Regions from separate parts of the Homo sapiens genome. Here region 1 is linked to region 2. The links come from fine-mapping of genetic effects on gene expression. A gene starts in region 2. The other region holds a variant in brackets. All regions are shown on one strand. Distances are from middle to middle. Region 1 holds the start of SIN3A (SIN3 transcription regulator family member A). Region 2 holds the start of MAN2C1 (mannosidase alpha class 2C member 1).

The links. PIP is the estimated chance that this variant, and not a neighbour inherited with it, causes the effect.
Region 1: its variant is fine-mapped to the expression of MAN2C1 in whole blood (INTERVAL, PIP above 0.99).

What each region holds. Positions count from the first base shown.
Region 1 is chr15:75,444,733-75,454,205 of GRCh38, reverse strand. It overlaps SIN3A (SIN3 transcription regulator family member A), which reads left to right and starts at 2,516. Exons shown (of 21, transcript NM_001145358.2): 1 at 2,516-2,783. RefSeq lists enhancers at 1-21, 1,101-1,632, 1,862-1,911, 3,622-3,751, 3,179-4,098 and 3 more and silencers at 2,552-2,651, 2,872-3,371. The variant T/C (reference allele first, on the strand shown) is at 4,501.
Region 2 is chr15:75,364,121-75,373,877 of GRCh38, reverse strand. MAN2C1 (mannosidase alpha class 2C member 1) reads left to right here and starts at 5,271. Exons shown (of 26, transcript NM_006715.4): 1 at 5,271-5,395; 2 at 5,680-5,805; 3 at 6,244-6,367; 4 at 7,286-7,356; 5 at 9,213-9,390; 6 at 9,690-9,757. The coding sequence starts at 5,295. SIN3A (SIN3 transcription regulator family member A) reads left to right here. Exons shown (of 21, transcript NM_001145358.2): 21 at 1,669-4,499. The coding sequence ends at 1,899. RefSeq lists enhancers at 5,096-5,390, 5,075-5,394, 4,966-5,498 and a silencer at 5,525-5,604.

The DNA of each region.
Region 1 (9,473 bases), 80 kb before region 2:
TCGGGAGGCCGGGCTGGAGTTTAAGTTGCTAGGATTTTTTTTTCGCGGAGGGAGGAGGGACGGTTCTTGCGGATGACGTGAGGCGCAAGGTCCCGCCCCCGCCTCTGATTGGTGGGGCGGGTAGCCCGGCCTCCTCCGGCGGAGAGAGCTGGGAGGGGAAGTCCACCCTTGCTCCCCGCCTCCCTCCGCTCTTGAGCGCGCTCCGCACATGTGTGAGGCCCGCCTAGCTCCTTCGAACTGCCCTCCCGCCCGGAAGTCCTAGGCTCGGCGCCCTTGGCGAGGGGGGCGGGGAGAGCCGAGAAGCCACACAAAGGTTCCACCGAGGCTCGAGACCTAGTAGCCTTCGGGGTGAAGCCAGGGGATTACAGTGCGGAGTGGATTTCGGGAGCGAAACTCCGGAGGTTCTGCTGGGTTTGAGATCTGCCTTTCGGGGCCGGGGCCAAGTACTAAAGTTCTAACCCTGTCGCTTGGCTATTTCCGTGCCCCTTGACTTCCCTGAGCTTAAGCTCGAGAACTCTGCAGACGCTGCAAGTGTCTGTTCTTTCCTAGGCATGGCAGCGGCTGTCCTTAGTTGGCTGTATCTGAGACTCTGACAACCTAGTGCCCTGGCCTGGGGCCCTTAGGCGAGATCTTAGCGCAGGTGGTACCCTGTGTTCACGGGAAGTCGTGGGCGGCCTAATGCTGGCTTGGGTTCTGAGTAGTTCTTGATACCATGGTGGGAATGCCCTGTGGTACTCAGTCTAGTGGTGGAAGGCGGCGCAAAGTTAAAAGTAGCCGTGGGTCAGTTCTGCTGGAGTGCCGCTTCCTCCTAACCTCCGAGCAGTTTGGCCCTGGGGTCGCTTCGTTGGTCTGACTTATTTTTAGAGCTCTGTCCTGGGGCAGGGCTTGGCTACTGGCGAGGCTGCTCCCACCTGTCGGCTACCCTTGGAGTTCACAATTCGCTGCTGTGGTTTCGCGGCTCGAAGCCATCGCTGGAGTCAGGCCCACCTGCTGCCAGAGCTCGTTCCTGGCCGTTTCCGCTGGATTGCAGAGGGAGGACAGTGTTGGACCTAGGCGTGGGTTCCCTGGGCGTGTCCCTTGGGGTCTTAGCTCTCTGGGAGGAGGGTTCTACTTATTCGGGAGAGCGGTAACAACGTAATCCCGTCACCTCTCCTGGCGCTGAGAGAGCGCCCCCCAAAGTAAGATCAGCGTCAGGCCCACGCCCTATTTGGTGAATAAATAAAAGCAAACTAGGAATTGAAAGCACTTTGTCTCACTGTGTGTTCGAGGCACTGTTACCTACACAGAGAGGGCACAGGAACTGCTATTAACACTCCCGGCCAAGGAGAAGGTGAACAGCCGTTATCTTATGTCCCCAACTACGGAAATTTTATCCATTCTCTGAGTGTGGCATGTCCCCAATGTTAATTTATGCCGTGGCCTGTTTTGGTGTTTTCCTCTCCTTTCTCAGTTCTGAGGATGCCTCCAGATCCACCCGGGAGATCGTGAGTACCTTGTGCCTCACGCTCCGCCTTCCGGAGGCTTGCCAGGGCGGTGGCTGTTAGAGCCCGCCTCTCTTTTGGTTATCTCCGCCCTCTTAGGACTGCATATTCAGCTCTAGGGAGTTTACTTCTCCGCCTAGGTCTCCAGACCTTAGTTCTGTACTCTACTTGGCTGAAAGGAGTTGCCAGCTGCTCCGGATATTTGTGTTTACAAGGACGCAGTGTGTAGAATGTAAACTGTAAAGATAACTGGACGGAAGGATGAGTTCTCATTCTCTCATTTTTTTTGTGAGGGAGTCCTCCATGGTGGGCTGCCTTTCCTTCAAATCCTAGGATGTGGAGTCTCCGCTGATGAGCTCCGCTCCCCCTCCTATCTCGGGCCCTGGAACTCCGAGCTTCAGTCTCTAGTGTAAACATTCCACAAAAGGACTGCTAAGGTTCAGCCTCCTCGCGCAGGGTGGAATTAGCTCCTTCCTAGACGGGCGCCCTGGCCAATGGAGGGTCCTACCAGCGCCAAGATATCCAATCCGACTCTTGGGGCGGGGCCTGGCCCGGCAGTGCGGTAGGCGGAGCCTGTTTCACTTACAGACATTTTACCCCACATCGGTTACTTACCTTACTGGGGCGGTGGGAGAGCCAGGGGTAGCCTTCCAATGCGATGACCAGCGGAGGCGGGAGCCAACTTGTTAGGCCTGTGGCTGAGACGCTGCAGGGCGGGTTATGTGGTGTCCTCCAATGAGACAGGAAGAGCTTCCCTGCTTCCTCCAATAGTGTTGGGGCTCGGGGGTGGGCTTCAGCAGTCCGTCTCCAATAGGCGGGGTTGAGTTAGGGAAGCTCCCCGCCAATAGGGGCGTGGAGAAGGAGAGCGGCTCCCCCTCCCCTACCAGTCGAGGGGGAAGGGGCGGGAAAATCATAAGACAGGCCTCGGTGGTTGGCTGAGTCTTTGACGGGCGGGTATTGCGTCCTGTATTGGAACGAAGCTGAGTCTTCCCTCTGCGGGGCGGGGTCGGGGGAGTGGGCGGGATTTCCCGGGTAACAGAGAAGCGGCCGCGGCGGTAGAGGCGGCGGAGACGGTTTCTCCATCTTCCCCCCTCCCCTTCCCCCCTCGGAGTTTCCCTCCCTCCCTCCCTCCCTCCTTCCCAGTCTGGGCACCGGAGCCTGTGACCGCTTCGTTAGTGGAGAGGTAGCTGGCAGTCCGCTTCGGCGGGCCTGTGCCCCGCGCCGTTCTCGGGGCCTCCCTGCTGAGCTCGCGGCTCACGCTGAGAGGGACACGCAGTGACGAGCGGCCGAAGCAGCTTTGCGGTGAGAGCACGCTGGGCCGGGGGCCGGGCGGGAGCCTGGTGGCGGGTAACGCCGGACTCGAGGGTGTGTATTTTGGGGGGGGGGGGCTGACCTCCTCGGCTTCCCGTAGAGCAGACGGGCGGGAGGTGTGTGGTTGTGTGAGGGGGGTGGGGGGCGGAGCGGGGTAGCTCTCCGCGCGGGAGGGGGAGGAGAGCGTAGTCCCGGTGCGCGCGGAGGGGGGCGGGCTCTCGCGCCGCCGCTCAGAGGCGGGGCCGGCGCGCGCGTGCGATTGTGGAGAAAGGGGCGGGGCCGGCTTCGCGCTGAGTGCAGTTTGCGGCCGACCACCCCCTCCCCTCCTCCTGGGGTGGGCGGGGCCTCGGGCTGGCGGCCGCGCTCTGGCCTGCTGGGGTCGGGGAGGGGTAGGGGGGGGTCTCCCGCGTGTAGATTCAGGGCGCGGCAGGGAGGGGGCGTGAAGTCTGAGTTCCTCCGCCTTCTTGGGATCCGGTTGGCCGGAGGGGCCGTACTGATCCGTGATGCCACTCCCCTTGGCCGTCCCCCCCTGCACCCCGCCCAGGCCCCGGGTTTCCGCCTCCTTGGCAATGAGGAGGTGCTAGGGAAAGCCCGCTGTCGGGTCTGGCTGGGAGTCTCGGCGCCTAGATCTGCCCCGCCCTATGTCTCCGTGGGGAGGGAGGGGCACCCGCCGACTGGGAGCTGTGGAGGTGTCAGGACTTACTCTTGTGGCTGGGTCATGCCTTCTGCCTGGGGGCACAAGGGCCCTGTGCCGGAGCTGCTTTCTCCGCTTTGCTCCATGCAGCGTGTCTGGCACCGTGCAGCCAGGAGAGTGGGAGCATGGTCACCCCCACTCCCCTCTTGGTTGTAACTATTGGGGCGAAGTGCCCAAGGTCCTCTTGTAGGAGCGTGCGTGGCTGGTGCTGGAACCCTAGATCCGCGGTGGTGATGGTAGGGGAGGGGCAGGGAGTCATCAGAGACTAGAAATGTGGCGGAGGGAAAACCTTCCCTGGGGTTCCCTTGATGTTCAGTTACCGTGGCTGTACGGGGCGGGGCTTCCTTTGAGCCAATGGGTGGTGGGTAGTAGACTTGGCGTCTGTTTCGGTGCGTTAGGACTTTAAACGAAGTTAGCCTTGAAAAGGCAGTGGAAGCTCCTCCTCTTTACAAGGCTGAGATTTATAACAGGAAAGTTTGGATTTACATTTTAATCTCAAAACTGGTCTGTTTATAAAGTAGGGTTTGTTTTTTTTTTTTAAGAACTCAGACTTTGAATAAAATACTCCGATATCTCTGACAGTTGTATTTTTGAATGCTTTCATTGTGCACATGGTTCTGCTATATAAACTTAGTTTCCTGGACGGGCGCGGTGGCTCATGCCTGTAATCCTAGCACTTTGGGAGGCCGAGGCAGGTGGATCACTTGAGGTCAGGAGTTCGAGACCAGCCAGGCTTACATGGCGAAACCCTGTTTCTACTAAAAATACAAAAAAAAGCTGGGCGTGGTGGCAAGCGCCTGTAATCCCAGCTACTGGGGAGGCTGAGGCAGGAGAATCACTTGAACCCGGGAGGCGAGGGTGCAGTGAGCCGAGATGGTGCCATTGCACTGTAGCCTGGGCGACAGGAGCAAAACTCCGCCTCAAAAAACAACCAAAAAAACTTGGTTTCCTAAAGAATTTGCTATTTAGGTAACTATAGGTGAAAAGTCTTTTCTTTTTTATTTTATGTACTTA[T/C]GTTAGACCATCTAGACCACTTTCTATTTATACTCTACATAGTACAGTGTTGTTGCCCTTTTTATTTCAGAGGAGGGTGGAATTGTGGATCAGGGTAGCCTTCTGTATGTGACTTCTGTAGCGTTGCCCTCCAGCCTGTATTGGAGAGTTGCCTTAGGGCATTTCAGATTTAGATAGCAGAACCACATTAGATGAGGTTTTTGCTTTCACTTGATACATTATCTTTTCCTATTGAGAGAAATTATTTCAATGTTTTTCACATTTTTCATGAGAAAAATAAACATGGAACCAATGTTTATTTATGCAGTAATGTCTAAATGAGCCTCTGGTTAATTATCTGAAGTGAAATTCTAGATTTGTGCTTTGGTTAGTAGGGCCTGAGTGGTACCCTGTGCTATATTTATGTGAAAAGGGTAGGTGGGTCCTACCTTCTCTGCTAAGGAAGTTGCAAAAGCAATAGCATTTTAGTTTAGCAAATGATGGCTGTAATAGAATTGGTGGGGAGACAAAAAATCCAGGTGGTTTTTTCTGATGCCATAAACTGAGAGAGATAGTGGAGAACGATTGACCATTGAGGAAAATTTGGGCTACATATATAGTTCCCATGATTTGCAGTGCTGTATACTGGGGAACACAGAAGAGTCTATAAGGATTCAAGTAAGAACCTGGTTTTGCTGTATTAGGAACATTTTCATAAATGCTTCATAATCTCCAGATAATTATTTTATATACTATAATTTTGTTCAGAGATAAATAGCTTAGAAAGATTGGCACTTCGTAATTAAGAGGGTTTTAATAATTTACATACAGAGAAAGACTTTTTTTCTTTTTTAAGGAAGGAGGTGTGTAGTAATTTGACAAGATTCCTGGTGAAGTATAATTCTTTTTACATCTTCAGTGGGAGCAGACAAGACACTGGAGAGCTGTGCATGGCAGATGTTAGTACCTGGGAATTTTAACTGGAATTAAGAGGTTATATCCCTGGCATTCAGTAGTTTAGCATAGTGCTTTTCATGGCTTTCTCTCTTTTCTGGGCAATCCACCAGCCAAGAGTTTGTTAAGCTTTACTTTCTGTAGGCCTTTAAAAAAATAAATAGTATATGCTTTTTCAAAATACACCTTCCTCGCCCCTTGAAAAATAAAAGCTGATATTTATTGAGCACTTACTGTGTCACAGATACTGTGTTAGGCACTAGACTTTTTTTTTTTTTTGAGATGGAGTCCTGCTCTGTCTCCCAGGCTGGAGTGCAGTGGTGCAATCTCAGCTCACTGCAACTTCCGCCTCCCGGGTTCTAGCGATTGTCCTGCCTCAGCCTCCACGAAGAAGAAGCTGGGGCGCCACCACACGCCTGGCTAAGTTTTGTACTTTTGGTAGAGGCAGGGTTTCACCATGTTGATCAGGTTGGTCGCAGACTCCTGACCTCGTGATCCGCCCGCCTCAGCCTCCCAAAGTACTGGGATTACAGGCATGATCCACTGCACCCGGCCGCATAATGTCTTTTTTTCTCATGTCTTTTTTTTTTTTTTTTTAGACGAAGTCTCGCTCTGTCACCAGGCTGGAGTGCAGTGGCATGATCACAGCTCACTGCAGTGTTGATCTTCTGGACTTAAGCGACCCTCCTACCTTAGCCTCCCATGTAGCTGGGACTACAGGTGTGTGCCACCACGCACCTGGCTAATTTTTTTTATATTTTTATAGAGGTGAAGTCCTGCTGTGTTGCCCAGGCTGGTCTCGAACTCCTGGGCTCAAGAGGTCCTTCTGCCTCAGCCTCTCAAAAGTGCTAGGATTAAGACGTGAGTCACCGTGCCCGGTCATGGGTGGCAATTTCTACCTGATGTATTTCTTATTTGCCCCTTTTGCTTTTGTTTTCCCTACCCACTTTTTGTCTTGTATGCTTGTATGTTACCCATATTTCTCAGCATGACAGTGGACCCTTCATGAGTCTTCTTGGTGTCCTCCAGGGCTAGGCTTGCTGACATATGGGCTATTGGAGGATATGCAGGTCCACATCCTTTATTTGCAGTTCTGAAATGCAAGAGTTTTTGTTTTTTGGTAAGTCTAGTTCCACAACTAGTTTTGGGGTACAGCCTGACCTGGGCTATCCTGCATGATGCAGAAATGTGACTGCTTGATTATGGGGAGCTACTCAGCCCTAGCTGGGAGAGAGAGATGATACAGTATATGTACCATATTACCTTTCTAAAATCCAAACAATGCTGATGACTCTAACGGGGATCTCTCCCTCTACCATAGACTAATATGTTTAGTGGCCCACTCAAGGTCTCCACTCGATGTCTCCTCTTGGATAACTAAGAGACATTGTTGACTCTTCTGTGTCTTTTTCATATGTGGTCCATCAGTAAATTTTACTGCTTTATATTCAAAATACTATCCAGAATTAGACCACTTAGGATCTGCATCTCCACTGCCCTAGTCAGTGCCTGTGCATCTCTAGCTTGGATTCTATTCTCCTTGTTTTGTTACTGCGGCTCTTAAATGTGTTCTCAACATAGCAACCCAAGTGATTCTTTTGAAACCTAAGTCATACCGTGTCACTTCTCTGCTTAAAACCATCCAGTGGCTTTCCATTTCAGTCTGAGTATTAAACCTGAGTCCTTATTTAGATATGTCTGTAATGAGCTGGGCGCGGTGGCCCATGCCTGTAATACCAGCACTTTGGGAGGCTGAGGCAGGCGGATCACGAGGTCAGGAGATTGAGACCATCCTGGCTAACATGGTCTCCACTAAAAAAAATACAAAAGAGTTAGCCGGGCATGGTGGCACACGCACCTGTAGTCCCAGCTACTCGGGAGGTTGAGGCAGGAGAATGGTGTGAACCCGGGAGGTGGAGCTTGCAGTGAGCCAAGATCGTGCCACTGCACTCTAGCCTGGGCGACAGAGCGAGACTGTCTCAAAAGAAAAAAAAAAGGATATGTCTGTAATTTCACCATTTTGGGAGCTCAAGTGGGAGGATCGTTTGAGTCCAGGAGTTTGAGACCAGCTTGGGCATCATAACAAGACCCTGTCTCTATAAAAAAATTAAAAATTAGCCAAGCATGCTGGCGCGTGCCTGTAGTCCCAGTTACTTGAGAGGCTGAGGCAGGAGGATTGCTTGAGCTCAGGAGCTTGAGGCTGCAGTGAGCCATGACTGTGCCACTGCACCCCAGCCTTGACGACAAAATGAGACCCTGTGTCAAAAAATAAAAAAACACCTGTAAGAACAAATCTGATGTACCCTCTGCCTGCCACCCTTATCCTAGTACCTCTCTGACTACATTTCTGACTAGTCCTTCTTTCGTTTTTCTTCAGCTACCCAGCCTTCATGCTGTTTTGGAACATGTCAAGCACATGTGAGCCCTCACAAAGACATGAGGGTCTTTGCGGTTGCTGTCCCCTCTGCCTAGAAGGCTTCCTCCACTAATTTCTGCATGACTAGCTCCCTCACTTCCTTTACTCAGAAGTTACCTTATCAGTAGGTATTATCTGACCATTCTTATCTACAATTTCAAAAACTCTTCCTTGCCTTTTGTTCTTGATACCTGTCACTGCCTACTATTCTAAATATTATACTTTGTCTATTGTGTCATCTTTCACTAAAATATAAGCTTCTTGAGGGAAGAGATTTTTGTTTACCGTTGTATCTCCAGCTCCTAAAACACCTGGTGCATAGTATGTGCTCAGTAGATATTAGAGAATGTATACATGAATGAATGATTTGGTTTCCACCACAGACAAGACAAAGCAGTATGCTGAGCATGGTAGAGGATACATAGATGGTTAAAGATGTTATGTGCCCATGTTTGTGTGGGAGCAGAAGAGCTAATGTGATAAAAGCAGTGTGAGATGTGAGTGACACTTCCACCTGTCCTTTCAAGAACTATCTCAAGTTCTATTCTTTGTAATGCTCTATTTTCTTTTCTTTCTTTCTTTTTTTTTTTTTTTTTTCTTTTTTTTGAGACAAGGTCTCACTGTGTTGCCCAGGCTAGAGTGCAGTGGTACTATCTCGGCTCATTGCACACACACACATACACACACCCAGCTTCAAGTGATTCTCCTGCCTCAGCCTCCCGAGCAGCTGGGATTACAGGCATGCGCCACTACACCCAGCTATTTATTTATTTATTTATTTATTTTGAGACGGAGTTTTGCTCTGTCTCCCAGGCTGGAGTGCAGTGGTGCAATCTCGGCTTGGCACAATCTCAGCTCACTGCAACCTCCACCTCCTGGGTTCAAGTGATTCTTCTGCCTTAGCCTCCCGAGTAGCTGGGATTACAGGCACCCACCACCATGCCTGGCTAATTTTTTTTTTTTTTTTTTTTTTTTTGAGACAGTGTCTCGCTCTGTCGCCCAGGCTGGAGTACAGTAGCGCGATCTCAGCTCACTGCAATCTCCCCTTCCCAGGTTCAAGCAGTTCTCCTGTCTCAGCCTCCTGAGTAGCTGGGATCACAGGCGCCACCACCATGCCTGGCTAATTTTTTGTATTTTTAGTAGAGACAGGGTTTTACCACGTTGACCAGCCTTGTCTTGAACTCCTGGCCTCAGGCAATCCACCTGCCTTGGCCTCCCGAAGTGCTGGGATTACAGGCATGAGCCACTGCACCTGGCCTTATAGATATTTTGAAAGATTATATTTCTTATATTAAATAGAGATAGGGTCTTACCATGTTGCTCAGGCTGGTCTTCCTGGACTCAAGCAATCCACCTGCCTCAGACACCCAAAGTGCTGAGATTACAGGTGTTAGCCACCATGCCTGGCCTAATACTTAATTTTTAAAAAACTTTTTCTTTGGAAATAATTTTAGACTTCAAAGAGAGTTGCAAAAATAATACAAATAATAGCCCTATAATCTTCACCTAGATTCCCCAAGTGCATCTTTTAAAACCACAATACAGTGATCAAATCAGAAAATCAACATTGATAACAATTATTAATACATTTTGAATTTAACTAAATTTCTGTTCATTTTCTACC
Region 2 (9,757 bases):
CCCCCAAAATGGAACTACTGATAGTCTACTACTGACTGGAAGGCTTACTGATAAACAACATATTTTGTATGTTGTATGTATTATATATACTGCATTCTTTTTTTCTTTCTTTTTTTTTTTTTTAATGAAAATAGACACGGGGTCTCCTTACGTTGCCCAGGGCTGGTCTCAAACTCAAGGGTTCAAACAACCCACCCATTTCAGCCTCCTAAAGTGCTGGGATTACAGGCGTGAGCCACTGTGCCCAGCCTATACTGTATATTCTTACAATAAAGTAAGTTAGAGAAAAGAAAATGTTAAGTCATAAGCAAGAGAAGATACATTTACTCTTCATTAAGTGGTTGTGGCTCATCATAAAGGGTCCTTATTCTCATCTTGTTGAGTAGGCTGAAGAGGGAGGAGGAAGGGAGGGGTTGTTTTTGCTGTCTCAGGGTTGGCAGAGGTGGAAGAAAACTTGCCTATCAGTGGCCCTGCGCTGTTCAAAGCTGTGTTGTTCAAGAGTCTGCTCTACTTCTCTCATGGCACTGAGGGAAGCGCAGTGGCATGATTTCAGCTCACTGCATCCTCCACTTCCCGGGTTCAAGAGATTCTCTTGTCTCAGCCTCTCGAGTAGCTGGGATTACGGGCGTGCACCACCACACCTGGCTCATTTTTTTTGCTATGTGTTGTGTGTCTGCCTGTCTCTGATTCACATTATTTGGGACACTGGGCAACACCAGTTTTGTCTTTGTATCTCTTCTAGTATCCTTGCATGTGGACACCAATAAATTTTTATTGAATGTGTTGGTGGGAACAGAACCCCCTGCAGAACATCTGCCAAGCCTGGACTCTGCTTCCCAGGGTGGGGTAACACAGTGGAGGGAGAGTGGTTTTAAGCCCTTTGCTTTGCACTGTCTGGCTTAGAGGTGGATCTCCATGCTGATAGAAGTGATCAATGGCTCACTGGGTCCTACCCAGGATACATTAGAATCAGCTGGATTGCTGGTTTAAAATGCACATTGGTAAACCAAGGAAATGTGGGTTTTGGGGGTTTTGGGTTTTTTTTTTTTTTTTTTTTGGAGACAGGGTTTGGCTCTGTCATCTAGGCTGGGGTGCGGTGGTGCGATCTTGGCTCACTGCAGCCTCCACCTCCTGGCTCAAGCGATCCTCCCACTTCAGCCTACCAAGTAGCTGGGACTACAGGTGTGTGCCACCACGCCCAGTTATTATTTGTATTTTTGTAGAGATGGGGTTTTGCCATGTTGCCCAGGCTGGTCTCAAACTCCTGAGCTCAAGCGAACTGCCTGCCTCAGCCTCCCAGAGTACTAGGATTACAGGCATGAGTCACTGCACCTGGTCAGAAATGTGTATTTTTTAACACATTCCCTCGGTTATACTAACGCATGCTAAAATTGAGAACAGCGAGCTTTTTCAGCCCAGAGCCTGTGTTCGCATTTCTTTGGAGGCTTTATGGATTTTCATGCCCTCACATGTTCTATGTTCTTACCTCTTTAACTTCTCTTTAAACAGAGAATCCTTTTTTTTTTCTTTTAAGAAAAAAACAGTGGTATCTAAGACTTGAGCCCACATCTTTCCTTTGCTCCTTTAGAAGAAAATTAGGCTTTGTATTTGAAGGGCTCTTTTTTGGTTCTGCTTCATTTAATAAAATTTTTTTTTTCTGTTTTGCAGTCCCATGAGCGTGTAAGCAAGCGTCTACATCAGAGATTCCAGGCCTGGGTAGATAAATGGACCAAGGAGCATGTGCCCCGTGAAATGGCAGCAGAGACCAGCAAGTGGCTCATGGGTGAGGGGCTGGAGGGCCTGGTGCCCTGTACCACCACCTGTGATACAGAGACCCTGCATTTTGTGAGCATTAACAAGTATCGTGTCAAATACGGCACAGTATTCAAAGCCCCTTAACTGCAAAGCCAGAGCAGATAACTTGGGGTGTGTGTGGGGATGTGTGTGTGGGCCTATGCACTCACACACTGAAGAAACAAGGAAGATGCCTTTCAAGCCTCACTGGGCCTCTCTGGGACATGGCCACCTGACCTGTGTGTGGCTGGTGCAGCCTGGCACCAAGTGGGCTACCTGTTAGGAACATGAATACCTTACAAAGCTGAAGCTGGAACTTTTCCCAAAGGGTTTTGGGTATAGCCTGCCCTGGAGGGGAAGGAAGTCCATGCAAGCAAAGACATGCAGTTTGCTTGCACACACCAGCAGAGCTAAGACTGGAGTCTCCTGTGGCCTAACTTTCAATGAGGGAACCGGATGCTGTTCACACTTTGACTGGATGGAGATGCATTTACAAAACAGACTGGAGAAGGACTTAATACTCAGATGGATTGGAACTATCATGGTCACTGCTCCTCTCCCCTCCCCACAAAAGGAAAAAAAAGCTGGATTTGATTTTTTTTTTCTGGTCACTCGAGCACATCTAAGATCACCCATTAGGTTTTATCTGGGACCTGCAGTTTGGCTTTGGGATTGATCATCTTGTGGATTTTATTCCTGACGATTCCCTTGCTGCCTACCCTTTTCTCTCCTCTGGTTCTCAACCTCAACGAGTTCAAATCAGTTGTCCTTTTTAGCTCCCGTGGAACTGTTTTGTATCTGCCTCTTTACTAGTCTACCTTAGTGCCATCCACCAGCTTTACTCTCTGACACACACACGCACACACACACACAATTTTAACTTGTTTTTTTGTACATAATGTACATACTGTCAATTTTTTATTAAAAGAAATATGCTTTGATGTGCTAGCATAACTGCTCTAGCTTCTTGTGTACCATAGTACTGTGGCTTCAGATTTAGTACCTATGAACAGATGTACAAGACATTTATTACACTTTTTACCAAAGGGAGTTACCATTGTAGTACTTTTGTGTAAAACTTGTCTTCCCCTTTGCCCCCAACTTTTTTTTTTTTTTTTTTGTAAATAAATAAAGCTTGGTTCTTACTTAAGGAATAAACTCTCAACCCACGTCCCTTGTCCTCACCAGAAAATACTGTGAAGCAGGGATTTTGACTTCAGTTCCTTATCCAGGGTAGAAACAGGATTTTGCTTAAAATACTTGTTACTTGTCCCAAATCAAAATATTCCAAAATCTTAGAATACTTAAGTCTTTTAGTACGTGTTTTTTTCCCTTGTTCAAATAATCTGAAAATATTTTATATTTGGGTAAGTTGTCAAGCTATGTAGTTTGTATTTCTATATATTTTTTCTTATTCACATTGGTGATGGATGGGGGTGAGCAACTTAAATACCAAACCAGTGTTTGAAAAAAAAGTGTGCATAAGGCATGTGGTATACCTTATAAATGGAGTTGGGAGGGAGAGAATTTGAAATGGGATACCTATTTTTTTAATTACATAAATTTAAACTAGCAGACATTTAAACATGAATGATTAGGATTTTTCTATGTGGTTAACCTGGACTTTCTGAACAAAGACCAACTGAGCCCCTCCCAGTACTCTGGTGGATTTTTCTTCAGCAACCATTACGCAAGTCTTAGTTGTAACCAGCAATGTTCTGTGTGTTTTATGTTTGCTTTTTAGTTAAAAATCACCACCACCACCAAAAAGAAAAACAAAATTTTTTGGCTCCTGGATTTTCAAAACACATGGTAGACCTCTCTGATTTTAGGCTTTTATTGTTTAAAGACAGTGTCTCGCTTTATGACCCACACTGGAGTGCAGTGCCACGATCATAGCTCACTGCAGGCTTGACCTCCCAGGCTCAAGCAGTCCTCCCACCTCGGCCTCCTGAGTAGCTGCATGCCACCACGCCCAGCTAATTTTTTAACTTTTTGTAGAGACAGGGTCTTGCTATGCTGCCCAGGTTGGTCTCAAACTCCTGGCCTCAAGCTGTCCTCCCACCTCGGCCTCGCAAAGTGCTGAGATTACAGGTGTGAGCCACCCTGGCCTGATTTTAGGCTTTTTTTGTACTGGGGAGAAGAGACTGTGAGCCAAAGTGTAGGGTGCCAAAAAGAGCTTTGTGGGATGAGATTTTAGGGCAAAGCTGGGGCAGTGTCTGACTTGGCGGTGGTCATGTGTACTGATTTAGGGGAAAGATCTTGAGGTTTTCTCAAATAATTCACCTATCCCCGTGTTCCCTCAAGAAAGGTCATGTTGACCTGGAACCATAGGGGAAATTGGTGGGGTGTGATCAGGGTCAGCCCCAGCTGTTGCTGCCCCTGCAGTGTTTTGTCCAGAGCACTTGCCTGCAGGTCAGGATAGGATTTCAAGGCCAGTTCAGGAGAAAGTCCCAACCCACCAGTGCAACCAACAAAAGAGTAAGTTTTACCTACAGCCTGGGTTTTCACAAGTAGCATTTTTATTCCTCCTGCTGTCTGACATCTGAGCTCCAAGCTCTAAACCCAACCTGTATTATATGCAGCAGCAGGTTATCTTTGTTTTAAATCACATTTGTTATTCTGTACTTAGTCACCTTTCCGTGTGATCTGCATTTGAAATGTTGTAAACTTGGTCAGTATTTCCATTAAAATATCAGGGCTAATCTTGTGTATTTTTTTTTGTTCCTAATGATTTTATAGACAAAGACTCTTGGCAACCCCAGGAGAAAAAAAATAAAGCTGTCAGTGGAGTACTAGGGATGAGAATGAAACTGGAGGTCTGTTTCTGGTATTATGGCTTCCCGGGACTCTACAGTCCTGTATGGTGAAATACATTTTTCCATTGGGATCGTCAATGCCATGACTGTTCTGCCACCTCAAACTCCAGAGTTTCTGGTGATGTGCAAGAGTTAGCAATATACATTCAGTAAAGCGTGTAATCGAGTAAGTCGTAGTAACTTGGGCGTAAAGCTCTACCACCCTGCTCACTAACACCCTGATCTCCGTCCGGTATGAAAACACCTATTCCGGGTAGTCTGGCTCCACGTTAAGCAAACACCACTTTCCGTGTTCACCGACAGCTAGAGCCAGAGGTCTCCCGGTTGCTGCTTCTGAGGCTGGGTCTGCAGCAGCTGAGGCTCCCGCCTGTCTTGCCGAATGGCCTAAGTCTCTGTCTTGAGACTTTCGAGAGTTCTAATCGTCAAATTTCCCATTTTATTTTGAGATTTTCCCTGCGGCCCACTATTTCGGACAACATAGGAGAGCCTCAAAAACAGTTTCTAGCTTCCAACTCGGCTCAAAGTTCAGACAGCAGCTGGGCTTCCGAGAGCCGCCGGTGTTCCAAGAAAAGCTGCCCGGGACTGGGAGGCGCCCTCTGGACGCCGGAACCTTTGGTTTCCTGCCGTGGAGCGGAACGGTAGCGCCAGGGGCCTTCCGGAAAGAGGAGCGAGAGCCCGGCGATGGCGGCTGCGCCGGCCTTGAAGCACTGGCGCACCACGCTGGAGCGGGTGGAGAAGTTCGTGTCGCCGCTCTACTTTACCGACTGTAACCTCCGCGGCAGGTGTGGCCCCTGGTCCCCCGCAGCCGGCCGACCGCAACCGTGCGCCTCAAGCTTTCCTTCCGGGGAGAAACCTAAGCTGCAGCCACCCGGGCCGCGGGACAAAGTGCCCGCCGCGGGCAGGGCAGGGGCCGGGGAGGAGGGGGTAGGGAATGGACTGTGCCGCGGAGCGGCCAGGCAGCCCTCTTGGCGGAGGATCCAGGGAAAGTGCGGCCCCACCGGCCAGCTGGCCCCCAGGCGGAAACGGGGCGGCCTCCAGCATGTGCCCACCGGCCCGTCCCACGCAGGCTTTTTGGGGCCAGCTGCCCTGTGGCTGTGCTCTCCAGCTTCCTGACGCCGGAGAGACTTCCCTACCAGGAGGCAGTCCAGCGGGACTTCCGCCCCGCGCAGGTCGGCGACAGCTTCGGACCCACGTAGGTAACGCCCAGCGGGTGGGCGGGGCCACAGGCCTAGGGGAAGTCCCAACCCAGCTCCCAGCCACACCTTCGTTGTCTGCCCTCTGCCGTAGACAACTACGTGGGATCGAGCAGCACCCTCTGCTGGGAGCAGCACCCTCTGCTGGGAACAGCTCTCTGGTCCCTGGGTCTTCAGGGGATGGTTTTCATTCCCACGTGGCCGCCTCTGGACATCCCTTAGGAAGGGCACCCTAGGGATCACGAACCTTTGACGCCTCTGCCTGTTTCCCTCATCTTGCTTCTCACCTTGTTGCTCCTTTCTTGTGACTCAAAGCTGAGTACCTTGTGACACTGCAGATGCTTGGAGAGTTTCAAGCCCCTGCCGACACTTTATCCAAGGAAGGATATCAGGATAGGACTTCTACCTCTAGGCCTATCACAACAGCTCTCTTGCAGATGGTGGACCTGCTGGTTCCGGGTGGAGCTGACCATCCCAGAGGCATGGGTGGGCCAGGAAGTTCACCTTTGCTGGGAAAGTGATGGAGAAGGTCTGGTGTGGCGTGATGGAGAACCTGTCCAGGTGAGGAACCCTGTCCTAGGGCCAGGTATGGCCACATTTCAGCCCTGAAATGACTACAGCCCTTCTTCTGTGGACTCTGGAGAAGCCACAGCTGAGTTGCTCTGCCCACAGGGTGGTATCAGGATTTCAGGACTAGGGAAGTTGCCACTTGGGCATCTGTGCAATTGGTCCTTAGTTTTTATTGTGTATAATACAAACTTATAGGAAAACATTTCAAACAGTTCTAGATAAAGTAATGGATCTCTCCTTATCACCCATCCCATTCCCCAGCTATAACCACTGTTAAGTGTCTTATTCATGCTCCACCCTTATCAGGTTTAGTCCTTATACTCCTATCTAGTAGGTCTTTATACCCATTTACAAATTAAGAAACAGATGTGTAGTTGACTCACTCAGGTTCACACAGCTTCTATTTCAAATTGGACTGACTCTCAATCTGGGGTTAAGACTGTTCTTCCTGGCTACAAGAAGGCAGAGACCATCCCTTCCTCCCTTCACTGGCTCAGCAAATATCTCCTGGTGTCCATTCTGGGCCATACCCTTAAGCACTAGGGTGTAGCAGGGAATGAGGCAAACCTGCCCCTGACTTCACGGAGTTTCTTTCCCGGTATTTATTTAGGGGTGCAGAGGCCACCAGAATCCACACTCAGGCTGCCTAACCCCTTCCCAGGGCCCTTCCCATAAGACCATGGGTTTGCCACTGGTAAACAGGGGCTATTTGACGGTCATGGTGCTGGCTGCCATGGGAGTTGGGGCATCTACTGCCAAGGGTCCCTGATTTGCCAATCTTGGCCCTGCTTGGGAGAGAGGACCCAGAGCTGGGAACCAGATGGAGGGGCCTGACTCCCCATGGCTTACACTTTACCTGAACTGTCCAAAAGCCTCAAGCCTTGTCTCTCTCACTCCCCTCCCTACTAGGGTTTAACCAAAGAGGGTGAGAAGACCAGCTATGTCCTGACTGACAGGCTGGGGGAAAGAGACCCCCGAAGGTGAGTCCCTGTGCCCTGGTTGACCAGTGCTGTCAGGGAGGGAGTACCAGTGAGCAAGGAGGAGCTGAGGCCCAGAGTGATCTCATAAGCCCGCCTCTGCTCTAGCACAATCATCCTCACATCTCATTGTTTGCTTTTAAAAGCATGATTTTTTCCTAACCATAAAAATAATGGGCTGGGTGCAGTGACCCACACTACCCTGGGAGGCTGAGTGGGAGGATCACCTGAGCCCAGGAGGATGAGGCTGCAGTGAGCCATGATCACACCGCTGCACTGCAGCCTGGGCAACAGAGTGAGACCTTGTCTCAAAAATAATAGCAATGTTTGCCTGTGGTAAATACAGGAAAGCACAAAGAAGTAAATAACTACCGTTATTCCACTCCCTAGAATAGAGATGAACATTATTAACATCTCAGCATTCATGTTCTTTTTTTTGAGACGAAGTCTCCCTCTGTCGCCGATGCTGGAGTACAGTAGCACGATCGCAGCTCACTGTACCTTCTGCCTCCCAGGTTCAAGCGATTCTCATGCCTCAGCTTCCCGAGTAGCAGGGATTACAGGTGTGTGCCACCACGTCCAGCTATTTTTTTTTTATTTTTGGTAGAGAAAGGGTTTCACCGTGTTGGCCAGGCTACTCTCAAATTCTTGACCTCAGGTTATCCGCCCCTCTCAGCTTCCCAAAATGCTGGAATTACAGGCGTGAGCCACCGCACCTGGCCCAGTATTCATGTTCTTGGTGTATCTTTCCGGCATAGTTTTTTTTGTTTTTTCGGGGGGGTTTTTTTGGATTTTTTTGAGACGGAGTTTCGCTTTTGTTACCCAGGCTGGAGTGCAATGGCACGATCTCGGCTCACTGCGACCGCCGCCTCCCAGGTTCAAGCAATTCTCCTGCCTCAGCCTCCCTACTAGCTGAGATTACAGGTGCCCACCACCATGCCCAGCTAATTTTTTGTATTTTTAGTAGAGACGGGGTTTGACTCTGTTGGCCAGGCTGGTCTCAAACTGCTGACCTCAGGCTATCCACTTGCCTGAGTCTCCCAAAGTGCTGGGATTACAGGAATGAGCCACCGTGCCCGGCTCATCCCGGTATAGTTTTTACTAGTTAAGATTGTATCCTGACTTCTTACATTCCATGTTATAACATGGACATTTTATGACACCATTAAAAACACTTCTTAGACATTATGAATGTATTTTATATAGATTGACACTGTTTCAGATGCTTTCAGACACTGGGAGTATGGTGGTGAATAAAATAGCCCTTGCCAACAAAGGGAGACAGATTCACTCATATAATTACAAAACTGAGGGCTCTGGAAGGAAATCCTGGGTACTCCACTGAGGAATTTGCTCTAGACTTAGCAGCGAAGTGGAGTCAGGAAGGCCTCCCTAAGGAAGTCGTGTTTGCTCTCTGAAGCCTAAGTATGGCATCACCACAGCCCAGCCTGTTCTCCAATGAATGGCCCGCCCATGTTGGCCGTGTTGGTTTTAGATCTTGGGTCTAAAAGTTTGAGCCTGGGAGATCCGAACATGATTTTAATATGCAAAGAGGGTTCCAAGACCAAGGCAGTGCTTTGCAAAGACAACTTTGGAAATATAAGACTAAACAGCAGCGTACTTTACATGGTTCCAAACTTTGCTACTTATTCTCTCTGACAGCAAGACATGGGATCCATCTGGTGTTTGTACCACAACCCTCCCACATGCACTCTTGTCACACTGTGGGATCCTCTGGGTAGTGGATCCTGGAAGCAGACAGGTTGGGCTCAGCTGGATGCCTCCTGGGTGCCCCTTCCCCAAGTCCCCGGAGTACTGTGCCAGTCCCTTAGCCTGAGGCTGTCTCCCCATCTTTGTAGCCTCACTCTCTATGTGGAAGTAGCCTGCAATGGGCTCCTGGGGGCCGGGAAGGGAAGCATGATTGCAGCCCCTGACCCTGAGAAGATGTTCCAGCTGAGCCGGGCTGAGCTAGCTGTGTTCCACCGGGATGTCCACATGCTCCTGGTGGATCTGGAGCTGCTGCTGGGCATAGCCAAGGTACTTGACACCCCCTGTACCCCCTGCTACCCTCTAGAGCCCTGCTCCAAGAAGGTTGTTCTTTGGGTCAGATAAATGGGACTCTGGGAATCCAGAGTAGGACGAGGGTTTCCACCTGCTTGAGGGTTGAGAGAATTTTCCTATGTGAAGGGGAGGAGGGAGACGGTGCTGAGCAGGGGGACCAGCAGGGAAAAAGGGTTGGGGGTCAGGGGAGCTCTGCTGAGAGCCCTGAGATCAGTGGAGCCTAGGTCTGGAAGCTGTGCTTGAAAAAGGGATTAAGGGGCAGAACCCTGCTGCAGGGCCTCGGGAAGGACAACCAGCGCAGCTTCCAGGCCCTGTACACAGCCAATCAGATGGTGAACGTGTG